2 separate regions of the Homo sapiens genome follow, and region 1 is linked to region 2. Evidence: fine-mapped expression QTL. A gene starts in region 2. The other region holds a variant in brackets. All regions are shown on one strand. Distances are between the middles of the regions. Region 1 has its middle 28 kb from the start of LINC01891. Region 2 holds the start of ARL4C (ARF like GTPase 4C).

What was found. PIP is the estimated chance that this variant, and not a neighbour inherited with it, causes the effect.
Region 1: its variant is fine-mapped to the expression of ARL4C in monocytes (TOPMed, PIP above 0.99). The same link has a PIP of 0.9 or more in monocytes after interferon gamma.

The regions. Positions count from the first base shown.
Region 1 is chr2:234,421,917-234,431,397 of GRCh38, reverse strand. No RefSeq gene overlaps it. Among named protein-coding and RNA genes, the nearest start is that of LINC01891, 28 kb to the left of the region's middle. RefSeq lists enhancers at 1-549, 2,521-3,092, 2,742-3,941. The variant G/A (reference allele first, on the strand shown) is at 5,278.
Region 2 is chr2:234,492,823-234,502,303 of GRCh38, reverse strand. It overlaps ARL4C (ARF like GTPase 4C), which reads left to right and starts at 5,223. Exons shown (of 2, transcript NM_001282431.2): 1 at 5,223-6,292; 2 at 6,468-9,263. The coding sequence starts at 5,718. The coding sequence ends at 6,498. RefSeq lists an enhancer at 4,188-4,961 and silencers at 5,146-5,435, 5,546-5,645.

The DNA.
Region 1 (9,481 bases), 71 kb after region 2:
CACATTAAAGGAAATCAGAATATTTTACCCCCAAATATATTGCTCTGACATATTTCGAGATGGCTGCCACAGGGCTGGCAGACTGAAGTGGCTCTACAAAGTGGTCTTTTGTGGGGAAAATTTGCATCTGGAGATCTTTAGTGAATCCCCAGAAATGCAACCAGTCCTGCCCTAGTCCTCATGTAGGAGAGATTAATTTGGGAGATTCTGACACCGTGAAAGATCTGAAAGAAACATTCATCATCTATTCTCTCTGAGAGCTGCTACCTGTGAGGTTTCATCTACATAACAAGACCACCTTTGTCAGCCAGTCCTCCTCTTCTCCTCCTCCCATCATCTGTCTTGCCAATAGAACATGATTGACTACCATAATTGTTTTTTGGCCATGCTCTGAGCCTCCATTCATTCTGTAACCTCAAGATGGTATATTTAAGCTTCTGTACTTTGTTGGGGGTGGGCTCTTTATTCTGAGGGCTCCTGTGTATACACACGTTGAATAACTTTGTATGCCTTTTCTCCTATTAATCTGCCTTTTTTTTCAGACAGAGTCTTGCTGTGTCGCCCAGGCTGGAGTGCGCTGGCCTGCTCTCGGCTCACTGCAACCTCTGAATCTGTCTCTCTGGTTCAAGGGATTCTCATGCCTCAGCCTCCTGAGTAGCTGAGATTACAGGCACACACCACCACGTCCAGCTAATTTTTGTATTTTTAGTAGAGACAGGGTTTTGCCATGTTGGCCAAGCTGGTCTTGAATTCCTTACCTCAACTGATCTGCCCACCCCAACCTCTCAAAGTGCTAGAATCACAGGTTTGAGCCACAGTGCCCGGCCTTAATCTGTCTTTTGCGAGTTGATTTTTCAGTGAAACTTCAGAGGGCCAAAGGTTTCGCTTTGGCCCCTACAACATATATGCAAGCAATAATTATTTTGCATCTTTAATCCAGATCATTATTAACTTTAATTTTTGGAGTCTGCTTAATAGTGATGAAAACTTCCAAGAAAATTCTGATGGTCAGAGTGAAAAAAGATTAATGTGGGATTTTACTGGATATTTTTCTAACATTCATGCATGATTATGACCAAGATTATGGTTTTCATAATGAGGTTACTATGCCACATGTATATACTTTTTTTTTGTTTGTTTGTTTGAGGCAGTGTCTCACTCTATTGCCCAGGCTGGAGTGCAATGGCATGAACTCAGCTCACTGCAGCCTCCACCTCCCAGGTTCCAGCAATTCTCCTGCCTCAGCCTCCTGAGTAGCTGGGATTACAGGCATGTGCCACCACACCCAGCTAATTTCGTATTTTTTGTAGAGATGGGGTTTCACCATGTTGATCAGGCTAGTCTCGAACTCCTCACCTCAGGTGATCCGCCCGCCTCGGCCTCCCAAAGTGCTGGGATTATAGGTGTGAGCCATCGTGCCCGGCCTATCTATATAATTTCTAATATTATCCTTCCTTCTCTGATGTAAACCAAGTAGAACAGTGGGCACCAAAGCACAGTGCATGGCCTAGCCCCTTCATTGACGGAGGGATGGAGAGCAAGTCACTTCTCTCCTGTAGCTGGGGAGATAAAACAGGGAAGACCAAGAGGACTCAGGGCAGGCAGGCCTGGAAGCCTACTGAGGAATAACAGTAATTATACTCAGCATTAATATTATGTATTGAGTTCTTCCTACACATAACGCTAAGTGCTTTACAGATCTGATCGCTGAAACAGCCCTGTGAGGTGGGCATCCTTATCTCCAGTGTACAGAGAAGAATCTGAGGCTCAAAGAGGCTGAATCATGGCCCCACGTTGGAACAGTCCTTGGAGGCAAGAGCACAGCTAAGTGCAGGCCTGCCTGGATCTCCAGCTCAGCTGTCAGACTATGCAAAAGGCCTCCAAAAGAGAACAGAGGCTTTGTGTTTGCACGTGGACTAGCACAGCTCACCAGGATCAAAGGCCAAGGAGTCTCTGGCAGGGATTAGGCCATCCCCCACCTACCAGCAGGTATTCCCAGGAAACCATTGAGGAAGCAGGAGACAGCCAGGCCAAGCCGGCCCATCGAAGGGCAGACATGCTAGAGTCTCTGTTCTTTGGAAGGCACAAGCAAAGCGAGCCTGTCACCTGCTGACTTGGAGGAGAAAGGGAGAGAGGAACCCAGATAGTGTGGAGGCTGCAGTGGATCCACTTAGTGGGCGATACGTGTCTCTCCAAGGGGGCTACATTTGGAAGGGGCCACAGTGCAGCGGGCGAGAGTGCTGCATTTCTGTGTGATGAGTTTGAGGCAGGCATCCACATAGACTTGTACCAGAGGCACCTGAAGATGCAGACAGGGAACTGGGACACAGGTTTCCATAAGGATGAGGATGGATGAGGATGTTTCTTCCCGCCCAAGTCTAGTCCCCTCCACCTCCCACCATTTGGCCTCAGAGGGCCAGCTTCCTGAAAATAATTTCCAAACGGACCCTGACCCACTCTTTCTTAGTCCTTGCCTTCAAGAATGTGGGGACCATCTGTGTCAGGCCAGAGTCTACAGTGACGGATGTTGTGATTTGTTGCTCCAGGAACGGGGCTGCATGTGGAAGCCCTTGCTGGTTTCTGTGTTGAGCGGTTTACTGCAAAGTTAGCTCTTACCTCCCATGCTCAAAGGCGATCGACCAGCTTGAAGTGGACTGATGACTATTTAACCTCTTAATAGACTTCAGACGGACAACGGGCTTTCCCTGAATACCTGGCACACGGGGAATATGCTGTGAAATTTGCTGAGTGAGTGAGTGGGCAAATGAAAACATGGTCTCCTTCTACTTCCAGTTTGAAAGGAAGTTAATCTAACTCGGGTGGTGTCCATGAGATGTGAGCATGCCTCTCTGTGCTTTCAAAAGTTCCACAAAACAGGTCAGGCACGGTGCTCACGCCTGTAATCCCAGCACTTTAGGAGGCCAAGGCGGGCGGATCACCTGAGTTCAGGAGTTCAAGACCAGCCTGGCCAACATGGCGAAACCCTGTTTGTACTAAAATTACAAAAATTAGCCGGGAGTGGTGGTGGGCGCCTGTAATCCCAGCTACTTGGGAGGCTGAGGCAGGAGAATCGCTTGAACCCGGGAGGCAGAGATTGCAGTGAGCCGAGATTGCGCCACTGCACTCCAGCTTGGGTGACGGAGCGAGACTCCGTCTCAAAAAACAGCAACAAAGAAACCTTCCACAAAACAAATCCTAAATTGGATTCTATGTCTCCAACAATAGGGAAATGATTAAGTAAATAACGGAAAGAGTTATACAACATTTTTTCAGGAATTTTTAGTGACAGTTAAAAACTTATTAAGTAAAAAAGTCAAGAAATAGATTTTAAATTACACTCTGATATCAAGTATGTAAAACACTTATGCTGAGAAAAAGACTGGATATAGCAGAAGGGTGGTCACCGATAAGGGGTGAGGCTTCCGGAGGATCGTGCGAAGTTTTCTGGGTACTTCCTGGTGTGACGCTGCATAGTGATGTGGTGAAAATGGCAAGTTCCTGGAGGGCTTGAGGTGGGTGGAAGTTTGCATTCTCAGGGAAATGCTTGGAATAGTCGTTGATTGGATGGTTCTCTACATTCTTCAGATTCCTCTGCAGAGTGCATTTCTTTCTCCCTCTCTCAAAGTGTGGATTAAATTGTTTTGAGCTGGTTTTGTCTGCAGCAATTAGTTATCTTAACTAAAGCTCATAAAAAAACAACAACAGAAAGGTAACATGAATGAAGGCCATGTCCTAAAGTTGTACAGGAAACAGACTAGGGAGCAGAGAAACGGGTGTGGGGCGGAGGGGAAAGGAAGGTGGGGGTGGAAGGTGGGGTGGAGGAGTCCAGCCTTCCCTTCCAGCAAACAGTAAGCAGCTTTGAGAAATGGGGAGGGGGCAAACTGATCTGAAATGAAGAGGATGGCCTCAAGGATGGCCCAGCTAGAGAGAGACCCACCATAAGTACTGCTCTAAAACCTTGGCCACTCCAGCTCTGGCCCCGCCATCAGCAACTGCTGGGTGTGTTAGAGACCCAGGCTCTCAAGCCCCAGCCCCAGGGCCCCAGAGCCTGCTTGTCAAAGGATTCTCCCTCGGTGAATTTGTGTGCATCAAATGAGTTTGATGCAACCCTTTCTGAGAGAGGGGGTTTCAGGCTCTGCCTGCCTGGAGGGTGAGAGGAAGTGGCAGCTCAGAAAAATCTAGAAGGGAGAGACGGGGGTCAGAGGATTTGCCGGACAGCCTGGCACCCAGAAGCAGCAGTGGCTGGCTCATGGTGCAACCCAGGGAGCCATGTGGACGATGGGGTCGATTGTTGACATCAGCACTGAGACGAACCCACCCAGCCTCATGTTAAACAATCAAATCTTAAATGATTGAGAGGTGCTTCACACTAATCTTGGCTCTTGAACAGTGGGGGCTGTTCCATAGGCTCAGTGTAATCAAGAATCATTCTTGCTCTGCTTCCGAGGGAGAAGGCGTTCACCTCTGCATTAATTTCAGCTGTGTGGGGAGACGTGCTCCCTGAATTTGGTTCCATCCTGAGTGGGAGGGTTGCTAGTCTCAGAAGCCTCTTCTAAGTTTCTCTTTTGACATCTGCTTTGGGCAACAACATGGCCACTGCTTCCTAGAGAAATGGGAAGAGAAACCCTCACAGTTCAGAGGGTGAGAGTGGCTGATCCCTCCCCCATCTGTTGACACTCCTGGAAACTTTTGGGGACTTCTGGGGATGGGGCAGAGGGGCCTATTGCAGAGGGTACATCTTCCCACAGGTTAGATGTTGACGCTCCAGCTGCCCCTGGCCACCGATGGCAGATGATTTCCTGAGCCAAGGATCCTTTCTTGGATTCTGGGTCTCCCTCACTTAGGAAGTAGAAGAGAAACTTTCATTTCCAAAGTGTTACTCTGCCATGAAATCCATCAATGTGGAGTGGCAGAACAGAGAGCTCAGCAGTTCCATTATCTGATGGAGCTCAGACAGTGCAGAAAAACAAAGTGTTTCCCTTCTCAGTGTGTGTGTGTGTGGCTTTTTTTTTTTGGGGGGGGGGTGGTCATTGTTAAACTGACACAAGGTGACCTGATAGGGGAAGGAAGATCTGTGATTCATTAACACTCTCTCCCTTCATCTTTGTAATCGTCATCATTTTCATTTCTTCCAGCAGTCTCAGGACCTGCCTCCAAAGGCAGGTCCTGAGGGTTCACAAGAAACCTAGAGCTGGGCGAGCTTGCTTCCCTCCTGCTGGGTTCAGCCCTAACTGCCTCTTCCTCAGCCCCGCCCTGCACACCTGCAGTTAGGGCACC[G/A]AGGCAGCCCTAACGCTTCTGAGGAAGTGGGTTTTGTGGGTAGGTGGAGTTCTATGTCCCAGAGGGTGAGGAACTGGGCACCACACCCATCCCTGTATGCAGTGGGTAGAGTGGCCTAGAGGGCCAAACCTGGGAGGAGGGTAGGGAGGACCCTCTCTGGCCCATCCTCTGCTTCTTCCCGCATGCCCCTGAGGGCTGCGTTGATGTCCTCATTTCCATATAACTCCAGTGACACAGAAGCTCCTTGTGAAGTGAGCTTTCCTGCCTAATTGAAAGACACCAGCAGAACATGACTCAGGGTGGCAGTCGTCCTGCCCTGGCACTAGGCAGGTCACCCAAACCTCCTTGTTCCTCCAGATGAAGATGCTAAAGCCTGGCCAGGTGAAAGAGGAAGAGGCAGGTCACCCAAACCTCCTCATTCCTCCAGAAGAAGATGCTAAATCCTGGCCAGGTGAAAGGGGAAACTCAACCCCAAGGAGTCAGGTCCAAAGGGACGGGTCCCCAGGGACTAACTGGGACAGGGGTCTGAAGGGACCACCAGCAGGTCAACCCACCCACCAGCCTCACCCGTGCTGTGTCCCCAGACATGAAGCCAAGAGAGCAAGTTCCCTAAATTCCCTTCCCACCTCTGCCACGACCAGCTGGGTCTTATAGTCACTCCCTGCCCGGCCTCATTCCCAATAAAACCCAACCACCAGGGGCCCCGCCACTGGCTACCACTTAGCTCGCTCTCACCCCCATCCCTGTGACCTCCCCCAGAATCTCCTATGGCTTTTCCCACCACCCTCCAACCATTACCAGTGAGGCTTGGGCCCAGGGTGTGTCCGGGCCTCTCTTGCCACCCACCACCCTTCATCTTTGTAGCCCGCTTTCCTGCAAGAGGGAATTCTCTCTTCCCATTACAACAGGGCCTGTGGCTTGAGCACCCAGGGTGCATGTGTACAGACTTGGGGAGCAGGGGCTCAGCTCCAGGCACTTCTAGGACCCTGGACCCTGAAATTTATATAGTGTTCCTTTATCTGGTAGCTCATGTCACTCATTAAGAGTTGTTCCATTTCTGGTGGGGTGCGGTGGTTCACGCCTGTCATCCCAGCACTTTGGGAAGCCGAGGCAGGCAGATCACCTGAGGTCAAGATGAGCCTGGCCAACATGGTGAAACCCATCTCTACAAAAATACAAAAATTAGCTGGGCATGATGGCAGGTGCCTGTAATCCCAGCTACTCAGGAGGCTGAGGCAGGAGAATCGCTTGAACCCGGGAGGCAGAGGTTGCAGTGAGCCGAGATCGCGCCATTGCACTGAGCAACATGACTAAGCAAGACTGTCTCAAAAAAAAAAAAAAAAAGAGTTGTTCCATTTCCTAATTTTGAAGGGTTTCATTTTACAAAGATTTGGAATGTGTATTTCTCCCAGAACAATAATTTCTTTTTATTTGTTGAAATGGTGTAAGCAGAAGTGTCATGCTAAATGTCTGTACATGGTTTCCATTCTCTTATGTAAACTCCATTTTTATAAATAGAGAATTCAATTTGATTCAACTTTAAACAGATGCTACAGTTAATTTTGAGCAATTGTTAATATGTGTGGGAACATGCTTTGAAAATAAGTCCGTGATCCCAATCTGTGCTCTGAGTGTTTTCATTGAATTGAGCACAGAAGTCCAATTCTGGAGAGATGAAAACACAACAAAGCCAAGATGATTTGAAACTGGCCTTATCTAAAGTTTTGTTCCTTTAAAAAATCAAAACGTCATTTATTTTCCTTCCACCCCAGCCCCCGTCTTCCCAGCTTTGATCTTTCTACTTGTCAGAATATTGCATCAATGACACTGGAAATATTTATTCAACAAATACCTATTAAGCCCCAATTAGAGGCTGGATGTTGCATTTGGTCCTGAAAATTAGACAAATACGTTCCCTGTTCTCAAGGAGCTTATAGGCCTGGGTAAGGTAATTGCAGACACCTGAAGTATAACATACACCTGAAGACTCTAACAGGGACACCTATCTCCCGAAAGGATCGAGGCATGGCCCTCCAATTAGGTTGACTTCAAAGTGTGAGGGGAGCCCAGGGGATTTCCAGTCCTAGGAAAAACCTTCACAGCCACCAAGAACTTTCATGTTTTAGTTTTCAATTAAGCCCTTTCCTTACATAAATTTTCTTCTGGATTCAAAGTCATTCAAAATGATGATTCACTCTACCTGGCAAAATATGCCGTCTTTAAAATTATTAATATAATTGTATCAGTTTTCTATTGCTGCTGTAGCAAATTACCACAAATGTGGTGCTTAAAACAAACCAAATTTATTATCTTAGAGTTCTGAAGGTCAGAAGTCTGGCATGAGCTAAAATCAAGGTGTTGGCAGGGCTGTGTGTCCTTTTAATATTTTTTATTTTTGGTGGCCTTAACAGAGGGTTGATATTTTGTCACATCTCATCGACCTGTCTATTATTATTATTATTTTTTGGTGGGGGATGGGGACAGGGTCTCGCTCTGCACTACAGGCTGCAGTGCAGACAAAATTGTGGCATGGCTCACTGCAACCTCAACCCCCCTGGGCCCAAGTGATCCTCCTACTTCGGCCTTCTGAGTAGCTGGGACCCCAGACATGCACCACCATGCCTGGTTAGTTTTTTATTTTTGTAGAGTCAAAGTCTTACTATCTTGCCCAGGCTGGTCTCAAACTGCTGGACTCAAACAATCCTCCACCTCAGCCTCCCAAAGTGCTGGGATTACAGGTGTGAGTCACCGCGCCCGCCCACCTGTCTCTTCTGCCTCCTTCCGCATTTAAGGGCCCTAGTGATGGTACACCTGCATAACCCAGGTGATTTCCCTATTTTAAGGTCAACTGATTGACAACCCTAATTCCAGCTACAAACTTAATTCTTTACCATGTCATATAACACATTCATAGGTTCCTGAAATTAGGACATGGACATCTTTTGGGGGCAGGGTGGGGGGATGCCATTATCCTGCCATCTACAAGAATATAGTTGTAATTATGTGACGTGCTGACCTCCTGTCTCAGCATCATGCTGTGCGGTGCAGACCTGAAGCTGTGAGCACACACCCTGTTGACGGAAGCAGCCGCTCTCCTATGTGATGAGGCTGTGGTTATCATTCTCCTCATCCTGATACCTCTTTTCTCTCACTGGGGATCCCTGCCAGCTTCTGCAACACAAAACTTCATTTTTATCTCCTAGTCTATTTGTTTTGTTCCCTAATAATGTCGGGTTTTTTTCTATGGTTTCTAAAATTCTTGCCACTGTTCAGCCATTTTTATACTTCTTGGAACTTTTTGAATTTTGAATAAGTAAATAAATGCTCAAATATGCATCAAACTCTGTAAATAAACAGAAGCAATTACAAGTTTTAGAAATAGTCTTATGCATTATGGTAAACTCAAACTCAGTGACGTGTTTGAAGTTACTTGTCATAGAATTCCTCAGCTCAGATTTAAGCTCAATTCACATATACAGTCCCTACCTTCTGGTTAATGTCAACATTCATGAATAGGCGTGGCCTTTGCAGGAGTGAGCTCAGGGAACCATGCTCCATGAAGCTCAGGGAAGCATACCTGAGTGTCCTATGCATGGATGACAAAAATCATTCCTTCCTTCCTAACATAATTGACCTTTACACTTTATGAGTAATGGTTACATGAAAAACACACCCAGCTGAAGCTTGGGGAAATATATCATGACTCACTCATCCATTCCACAAATACTAATGCAAGCTGTTGGCATGCTTGTATCTTAATATCAGGGCCACGTGCTTCTTTGCTGTCCGGGCTCTATCTGATCTCAAGGAACAGAGACAGCATGGCAGAGGTTACCATAGTTAATGGTGTTCAGCTTGTTTATCTTAAAGATATCTACAGGTAGAAAGAAAAAAAAAAAGGAAACCAGTATAAATGCTCCTGTAGAGGCTGCACACAGTAGAAATCAGTCCAACCTCATATAAACTGATTGACATATAGGCTTAAAGTTGGTCCTCATAACCCAGTTATCATGGGAAGCCACAGAAGTCCATGTCTCCTGCTTGCTATCTGAGCACACTTCCATTTAGATGAGTTGGTACTCGCCGGGTGCGGTGGCTCATGCCTGTAACCCCAGCACTTTGGGAGGCTGAGGCAGGTGGATCACGGGGTCAGGAGTTCGAGACCAGCCTGACCAACATGGTGAAACCCTGTCTCTACTAAAAA
Region 2 (9,481 bases):
TAGAAATTTAATTACTGTGATTGAATTATTAAAGGATTCAGAAATACCTTTTGCATACTAAGCCTTTTCTTCCCCCTGAACTGGAAGCTGGCACTAAGAACTTTTCTGTCACTTTGGTATGCCTGAGTGCTGACTTCCAAAGCTTTGAGTCTTAACATCCTTGACAAAGGTTCATTTAATACATGCCATGTAAATATTAGGGAGAGATGTAAAATAGTGTTATATAAGAATTATATTTGAAAATATTACTGATAGGAAAGATAATGGCTTCTATTTATTATTATTATTTTTTGAGATGGAGTTTCGCTTTTGTTGCCCAGGCTGGAGTGCAGTGGCGCGATCTTGGCTCACTGCAACCTCTGCCTCCCAGGTTCAAGCCATTCTCCTGCCTCAGCCTCAAGAATAGCTAGGATGACAGATGCCTGTCACCATACTCGGCTAATTTTTATATTTTTAGTACAGATGGGGTTTCACCATGTTGGTCAGGCTGGTCTCAAACTCCTGACCTCAGATGACCCTCCCACCTTAGCCTTCCAAAGTGCTGAGATTACAGATGTGAGCCACCATGCCCAGCCCAGATAATGGCTTCTAAAATTTTATATCTATCTCAGGAATGTAATAGAGATCGACAATTATTAAGGAAGACTTGAAGCGGGGGAGCCTTTTAGCTTTTTGATTTAAATTTTTTTTCTTGGAGAAAACAGCAACAACAACAACCATACAAAACACTAGCAGTGGTGATCATTGGGAAAATAAAAACCTGAATTGTTTCAGCCCTGTTGCTTAGCAAAATAAAAAATAAGGCACCCTGATTTTTTTTTCCTTAGAATTATAAACTTGAATGGCCAATAGAGTAGTGGATCTTTTTTATTTTCAGGCTTTGGACCACTTGAATGAAGCAGGAGCTTGCAGGCATCACAGATTTTCATTTATCTCCCCCCAGATCTACCGTCCCATCCACAAAACTTCCCTTGGCACCAGTGTCTTAGTGGCTTCCACTGTTACGTAGCCTGAGTCGGCGTTTCTCCTGGAGTTGAGGGGGTTGCACTGCAGTGATGGTGACTGGTTTGTCTAGCATGCCCTGGGGCTTCTGGAAGTATTGGTTTGGTTCTTCCTTAAGGAACCTCTCCTGACAGATAAAAGGCTTCAATCCTGGACCACCTGGCTTCAGGAGCTTCAGGCCTTGTCACTTTGTCTGCCAACTGGCCTCCTTCATTCTCGACTCCCAGCCCCATTCTCCATTTACAGCTGCTCATGCCTGCCTGCGAATTAGATGCAAAAATCAGTTTTCTTCCCTTCTCTGGTCTCAGCTGGGTTTCCTGGATGCTCTTTTCTGATCTCTTCCACCAATTGTGATTCTTTGAACAGTTCTCCTAGTAAAGCGACTTCCTGCTCTGCCAGGTTCCTGGCTCCCCTCTCCCAGCAGATAACCCACAGGTCTCACAGACAAGACCCACACTGGCATCAATGGCTCTGAGCTCTGAGCCCCAAGCAAAGCACCCATGGGCCCCTGGCACTTTCTCAGTTTAACCAGTAGGGCTCTATTCCTGCATCTCCATAGAGAGAAGAAAAGCAGGGGGTCACTTATCCATCATTCATTCCATAACTATGGACTGAACATTTGCTAAGCACTAGGCCAATGTGCCTCTGTAGAGCCCTTCATCTATTATCCGAGAAGCTCAGCAGAGGGCACTCCTGTATTATAACAGTTAAGCACCGGGGCAGTGAACCTGAACCCAGAGTTCCACAGCAGGTCTGCAGTGAGAACATGCAAATAACCCCACACTTATGCGCGCACGCGCGTGTGTGTATGTGTGTACACGTGTGCCCATGTTCTGGTCTTTATTTACTCATCATATTCAAGAATAAATGGGATGCTCCCTTTTGCATTTTAGGTTATTAGCCTTACTCAAGCAAAGATAATAATGCCATGATATATTGCTCATCGGATTCACTCAAAAGTCATTTTAATTGGTGGCACATTTTATTTCAAAGCCCTTAAAGGGAAAAAAAAGAGAATATTTTAGGATGCAATTTCAAAATTACTGCCAAGTTATTGCCTTCTGTTTGCTTGAAATAATTGAGTTCTTCTCTGGATGCAGTCATCTTGATGAAGAATAGAAAGGAGAGGACCTGAAATGTCACTGCTGCTGGAAGAGGAATTCATCTCAGGCAGACACAAGTACATGCTATTCTTTGAAAAAATCTCTCCTTCTGATTAATTAAAATGAAGTAAGTGCCACAGTGCAGCCAATATTTTCCACTCAGTGGAATTTAGCCATGATGTATGTCCATGAAGAAATAGGCTCAAAGTAGGCCTTACATGTCTGATATGAGTGGTAAACATTACCTTCCTTTTCATAATTCCAGTGTTTTTCAATAAAAATCCACATTTGAAGGAAAGTTACCAGTCGACTCAACCAAATGATATTTTTATGTGTTAGAAGTTAAATTATCAACTGTAAAATTAACTTATCACCTGGTGAGTGAAATTAGCAGGTAGAGTGGTTGCTATTCAATTATGGTGAGTTGCTGTTTAATGGCTGTGTTCTGGAAGGCTCTATTAATGTCTATTAATCTGTTTTTTCCTACTGGACAGCAGACAGCCCTTTATTGCTAAACCCCATCATGGTGGTGCAAAATGTGGAGGCTGCAGTCAAAACCACTGAGGCTCTTGGTAATAATTAGCATAGCACCAAAAAGATACATCGGATACTTTACTAAAATATCTCCTTCCTACCACCTTAAAACTTAAAGCAAGTCTTGACTAGGGGAAAAGGAAGTAACACAAAGGTAATCTGTGGAAGCCGGATGGAGAGGCTTCCAGTCTGATCTGTCTCTTTCCAAATGTCCAGGTCCCAGGCTACTAAACCAAAGGCTCATCTTGGGTTGGGGCTCAGCCTCGGCCCTGCCTGTGGCAGAGAAGAAAGAGAAACAAGAAACAGTCTCATGAGAAGCTGGCTATCTATGGGGCAGGCATTAAAGAGAGTCAAGAAAATCACTCCAAAAACACAAAATCCTGTCTCCCCAGGGTTCCCAATAACGGAAACATCATCATTATGAATTATGCCAACATATGTTGTTTCTGTTGCCTCACTAGAGTTGCTCTTTTGGTGACAGATCCTGGATTCTTCTTGGAGAACCACCCTTCCCGATTTCAACCCCTGGGCCACATCCACTGGTGTGTTCCCTCCTCCTGGACTGCAGTCCTTGATCCAGGGTGCGTGCTCCAGGCTTTGGTTAGAGTTACTGGGAAAGAGTTGTACCTTTTCCTTTCCAGGATCTAAACCAAGGATGTGAGTCCAAGGCTGCCAGAAGGAAAAAGAATCAACACAGGGGAACACGGAGGAGGACTGGAGAGACACCTGCTCGAAAGACTCCTTTTGAGCTCCTGGGTCTAGCCATGCCTGAAGAGGACCTTTATCCTTAACTTTTCAGTGATGTCAGTGAATACATTTCCATTTTTATTTAAAATGAAGTAAGTGGCACAGTGCAGCCAATATTTTCTGTTGAACTCTATCCTTCGGGTGGCTCACTTTATTCCTCATTGAAGGAAATAGCGTGTGGGTAGAGTGGGATGTGAGGAAGAGGGCAGGCAGGTGCCCAGTTTTGTGCATACAGACCCTTGGTCCTGGAGCAGGCAGTGGGCCTCTAGGTTCTGCCTTAGCCGTCACGGGCGCCTAGGCCTTGTTACCTCACTGGACAACGTTGGGTGGAATGATAGGCAGGGTCCTTTCCAGCCTGATACTTCGTTTCCAGCCCCAAATCCACTCAGTAGAGTGGATGGTCGCTCCGGCTGCCACCTTGGGAATTCCAAGGATAGGGGTGGTGGTGGCTTGTCCTTCCTTCTACAGGTGAGGTCTTCTCACATGCTTTGGTACCAACGATATCATATGTCTTTTCGTGGTTTGTGAACAGAAGGTGATAAAGTATTTCTCTAAAATTCTAGCTTTTATTCATAAATTCTTAGCATTTTCATTTTCTTCTCCCTTGACCCCGTTTCCGTCGTTTCTGTCTCATAAGCTAGAGCTGGGAAGATGCGGTCGCCCATGCTGCGGCCTGCTGTCTCCTGCGGAGCAGCTCTCCCCAGATCTGTGTGTTTGCCATAATATACTCTCACTTTTCTCCGCACCCAGAGAGGATATACATTTGTTACATGTTTACAAACCAGAATAAAACCATTGAACTGAGGTGACAGGAGGTGGAACCCGTGGAATATCAGTGTTTGTAACCCACTGCGCCACCAGCTCCAAGCTGTAGACACATTTTCTTTCAGCCCCCGGGGCTGGTGTTGCCATTTCTGCGGAGTAGTTCACCTGCGGGCAGGTGGTTCTCAGTTCCCAAAGTCGGGTGGCAAGGGGTGCTCTCCCGAAATGCTGACGCTTCCCCTGGGATGTCAGCAGAGTCGATGCGGACGAAATGAGGTAGCCCAGGCGTGTCTGGGAGGGTGAGCTGTCCGAGCTACTTGGGGCAGGTAGGTCTTCTAATCCCCCATCGCGGCCTAGGTCCGACCCTGCCCCAACCGCCGCCACCGGGCAAGAAAGGCTGGGCCTCCAGGGTGCCCTGGGCACAGGCCTGGGCTCCGGAGGGCGGCGCTGGCCGGGTGCAGCCCCCTGGAACCCAGGCAGGAGGCGAGCCTGGGCGTCACTGGGGGCCGGGGCCGGCGACAGCCGCGGCGCGAGGGTGGGAGGGGACGCGCCCGGCTGGATCCAGAGCGCAGGCTGGCAGCTCACCGAGGCCAGCCCCGTCCCGTCCCTTCTGGGGTTTGGAGGCCCCAGCCTCGCCGCCCTCACTCCCCAGAGCGGCGCTCTCCCAGTCACCCTGGGGGCCGCCCTGCCCCGCCTCGCGCCCACAGAGCTGGGACCCCGGGACCCACTCCCTCAGGCAGGCTGCGTCGCCCACGGCTGCGGCCCGGAGGGGCAGGGGGCGGGCTAGGACCCGGGCGGGGATTCCGGGAGCCGAGAGCTATTTTTGCAAACGCGTCAGCCGCTGGGGAGGAAGAGCCGGCTCCGCGCCCATTGTGTCTGCGCGGCGCGGCGCGGGAGGGGCCGGGGGGCGGCGGGGGGCGGCGGGGACGCAGCGAAGCGCGCGAAAACGGCCGGCTGGGCGGGGAGGACCGCGCCTGACCCCCGGCGGCGGGCGGGGCGGGGCCCGGGGCGGGTCCGGGGGCGGGTCCGGGGCGGGGCGCGAGGGGGCGGGTCCGGGAGCTCTCCGGCCGCTGCAGGCTGGCGGCTGCTGCGGCGGCGCGGGGACTGTGAGGCTGCCGAGCGGACAGCGACTCCCGGGGAAGCCCGCGCTCCGGGAGCGGGAGCGGGAGCAGGAGCAGGAGCAGCGCCGTCCCAGGCCAGAGGCGAGCGCCGGGCGCCGGGAGAGCGGAGAGCCCGGGCAGCTGCCGGAGCGCGGGGGCGCGGCCCGAGGAAACCACAGAGCGAGCCCAGGCCTGGGGAGGGCGCCGAACATCTGAGGCGGCTTCGCGGGAGACAAAGCCGCGCGTAGAGACGCGATGCCCGCCGATCGCGAGCCCGGCCGGCGAGGGCGCGGGGACTGCGGCGTCTGAGCGCGCCAAGCCGTGCGCCCGCGGGGACGCCGAGCCCCGGGGCCGGTGCGGGCGGCGGCGGGCGGGGCCCAGGTGCGCCCGGCCGCGTCGGGCCCGTGACTGCTCGGGGGGCGGCGCCCTCCCGCCGCAGCCGCAGTGGCTGGCGCCGCAGCCAGGAGCCATGGGCAACATCTCCTCTAACATCTCGGCCTTCCAGTCCCTGCATATCGTCATGTTGGGCTTGGACTCGGCCGGCAAGACCACGGTGCTCTACCGGCTCAAGTTCAACGAGTTCGTGAACACGGTGCCCACCATCGGCTTCAACACCGAGAAGATCAAGCTGAGCAACGGCACGGCCAAGGGCATCAGCTGCCACTTCTGGGACGTGGGCGGCCAGGAGAAGCTGCGGCCGCTGTGGAAGTCCTACAGCCGCTGCACGGACGGCATCATCTACGTGGTGGACTCGGTGGACGTGGACCGGCTGGAGGAGGCCAAGACGGAGCTGCACAAGGTGACCAAGTTCGCCGAGAACCAGGGCACGCCGCTGCTGGTCATCGCCAACAAGCAGGACCTGCCCAAGTCGCTGCCGGTGGCAGAGATTGAGAAGCAGCTGGCGCTGCACGAGCTTATCCCGGCCACCACCTATCACGTCCAGCCGGCGTGCGCCATCATCGGCGAGGGCCTCACCGAGGGCATGGACAAGCTCTATGAGATGATCCTGAAACGCAGGAAGTCCCTCAAGCAGAAGAAGAAGCGGTAATGCGCCCGGAGCGACCGGGGAGCGAGCGAGTGCGTCAAGAAAGAATGAATGGATGGATGGATGGTTGGATGGATGGATGGATGGATGAGCGAGAACCCGCGCCCGCGAACAAAGAGCGAACCAAAGCGATGCTTCGAATTTTTAAAACGGAATCTCTGCACCCAAATGCAGGACTGGTGACTTAAGGAGCTGCGAAGTCTGATTTACCGGCCTACTCTCGACCTGCCCCCCACCCCCAGCTCAGGGGACCTTTTGTCTGAACGCCAGAGCTACTGACCAGGTCGGGGGGCCGCGGTGGGGAGTGGAAGAGCCGGTCCTGCTGTCCGCCCTCCCAGCCCCAGGTGGAAGGCTCAGTTGTCGGAAAGACAAAAGCGATTTCTTCCCACTCCTGCAGGGCCAGAAGTTCAGGCTGCCCCGCCTCCACTGGGGGATCGCACCTGTGAATTACCTGAGGTATGCATTTCCCAGAACCGTGGGCGTACCCACCTTGGGGGGCATGTTGGTTCTGGGGGGACCACCTCTCCTTGCATTCAGGGGCTGTGAAGCTGAGTAATTTTCGGTCACAGGGCAGGCCCCTGTTGAAATTTCATTTGTCCTGCTCTGGGCCCAAAGGTGGTGGTGGTTTGGGTCATCAGAGGACTGCCTGGGACGGTTCAGCGGGCACGGAGCGCTGTGCTGGCCTGGCTGGGGATGGCCGCGGAGGTGCCCTTTTCCTGGTGCTTTGTGGTGGCTGCAGAAGACCAGTTTTGTTGAGAACTGCTTTTCAGCCTGGAATCAGACATCTTCCAGATGGTTTGGACCCTGTCCATGTGTAGGTCATTATCACACAAAGAGACCAATAAAAATAAAAAAAATAAAAAAAAAAAAAGACGAACTATTGGAGGTGGTGGCCAATGATGCATTTACTGTTTGCAGGATAGTTAAAGGTGTTTAAAGGGTAAGGCTTTTGGTGTAAATGCTGGATGGGGTGTGTGTGTGTGTGGATATAGGGACCTCCCTCTGTACTGTGTACTGTGTAATCGGCATTAATACCTAGACTCATATGTATGGAATTTTAAATTCTCTTAGCCTACTGATTGGTTTGGATGAGCACACCAGCTGCAGGTGTGTGCTGAATTGCAAGATGGTATTTTTTTTTTTAACCAAGGGATGTCTCTTGTAATACTAACCGCGTGATAATGGGTTTTCAGACATGATGAAAAAAAAAAACTTTTACAAATGAATACTTACCTTAGAAATATTCACCTTAGGAAAAAAGACTTTGCTCTGCCCTTTTATATTCCTTTATGCTGCAAGTGGTGACATGTTCAGATTTCTAATTTGGTTCATTGTGGCCTATCTGGTTTAAGTCTTTCATTAAAAATGTCTCGTTAGAGTATTTGATGTCATGCACCAAAAAAATAAAACCCCACCTTGTTGCAAAAGCTGACCTCGTTGCATGGAATTAAAAGAGAAGGAAAAACACAAGGATGAAGTCTTTCCGAATTCATTCTTGTGGGAACTGGCCTTCGGAGCCAGCCAGCACTTTGGGCAAATGCAAACAACAATGAGTGCTTGAGATAAAAGAAAGTGTGACGTCATGGTCACTGGTACTCAGGCACTTCACAGTTTACTTGAAAGAGGCTTTGGAAAATAGATAAAGTGAAAGAAGAATAAATACATATTTTTAATAATGTAATTTTAAAAATCCTTTATAATCAGGACTGAGTCTTGGTTTGCAGAAGCTGTCACTTACCCTGAAACACAGTATCAAAAGGGAAACTTAAAACATACTGTTTGATTTTTTTATTTCCTCTTACAATCCATGTTTTCAGGTAGAATTATGACTTTCCCCCCATTGTTACACATTTCTTTACAAAGGAGGCCTGTAGAAATTGGACACGATCATGCTTGAGCATGTGAGTTAGTCAAATTATGAGTCCCTGCCTATTGTCCATTACACACCGAATGTTAATTTAAGAACCAGAGGCAGAAGTTCTGGCTTCCTGCTTGAAACCCAATTCTTATATGAAATTTTTTAAAAGCAGAAACCTAGCAGCCCATCTGCTTTTTCTCTTTTGTCGGTGTATTTGGTACCCCTCCAATGCTGGTCTTTTTGTAGAAACTCAGTAGAGAAAGTCTAGCTAAGCAGTGTTGAAAAGCCTGCAAGATTTCAGTTTACATATCGACAGCATATCCACTGATTTCTAAATGGGCTGGTCCCATCATCTGAAGATTCTGTATAGAATTATTAAAAAAAAAATCCATCTTTCTTTATTTTCTTCACATGCGACAATTTCTTAAGCACTTTGACATTTTGGTAGTTCCACACTATTGAGAGAATAATATATTTATTTTGTGACATTGCAGATGCCAAATACTGTAACCTTCTCATGATAACAATACTTAGGTTCAAGATCACTGTTCAAACCCTGTCATGCTTTAAAACTGATGCGAGATGATTTTGTTTTTTGCATAATCAATACTTAAGGGTGCAATCAACTGTTAGTAATTGTGCAGTAAAGTAAAGCCCTGTGGTGTATCAACTACTAGTTAAGAGTCTCAGTTGATTTCTGTAATGTTTGACCTAATAATAGCCCGTTTCGTCTCTGACCCAACAGAGGAAGCACAGATCAAATCACCTTGGAGTGGTCACCAGGGGGACAGGGAGCCCCCCACCAATGTATCAATGGGTGATTTATGATGCCTTCTGCCCTTTGGCGAGTGAATGGGTTTCCCATAGGGGAAGTTGGCCTCCCTCCGTGAGCTTTGGAAATGTTTTCTAATAGACACAGGGAGGCCAGTTCTGTTTCAGAGCAATTATCTTCCCAAATTCTCTGTTCTGGTGTTGGAACTGTGTGCCCTGGTTTCTGTTTTCCTTTCTACTGCTGTAATTCTCTGTCTCATCATCCTTCTCTTTTGTTTCCATAGCCTTTTATAATGCATATATGATGCTGTGAACAGAAATAAATTATTTATACAATCAAATGACTGGGGAGATTTTCTGTGGAATTTTTTGTTTGTTTTTTTGACATTGCTGGTATTCATTCTCTAGGCCTCTGCTGAGTGGGGGGATGGATCACAAGATGGTGTCTGGAGTTCTAGTCGGTATATCAGTCATCTCAATTTTTGGTGTCAGGGTCTAGCTCTGCCGTGAATGGTGGATCCGGATGCTAAAATGCAGGAGTCTGTATGCATTTGAGGCT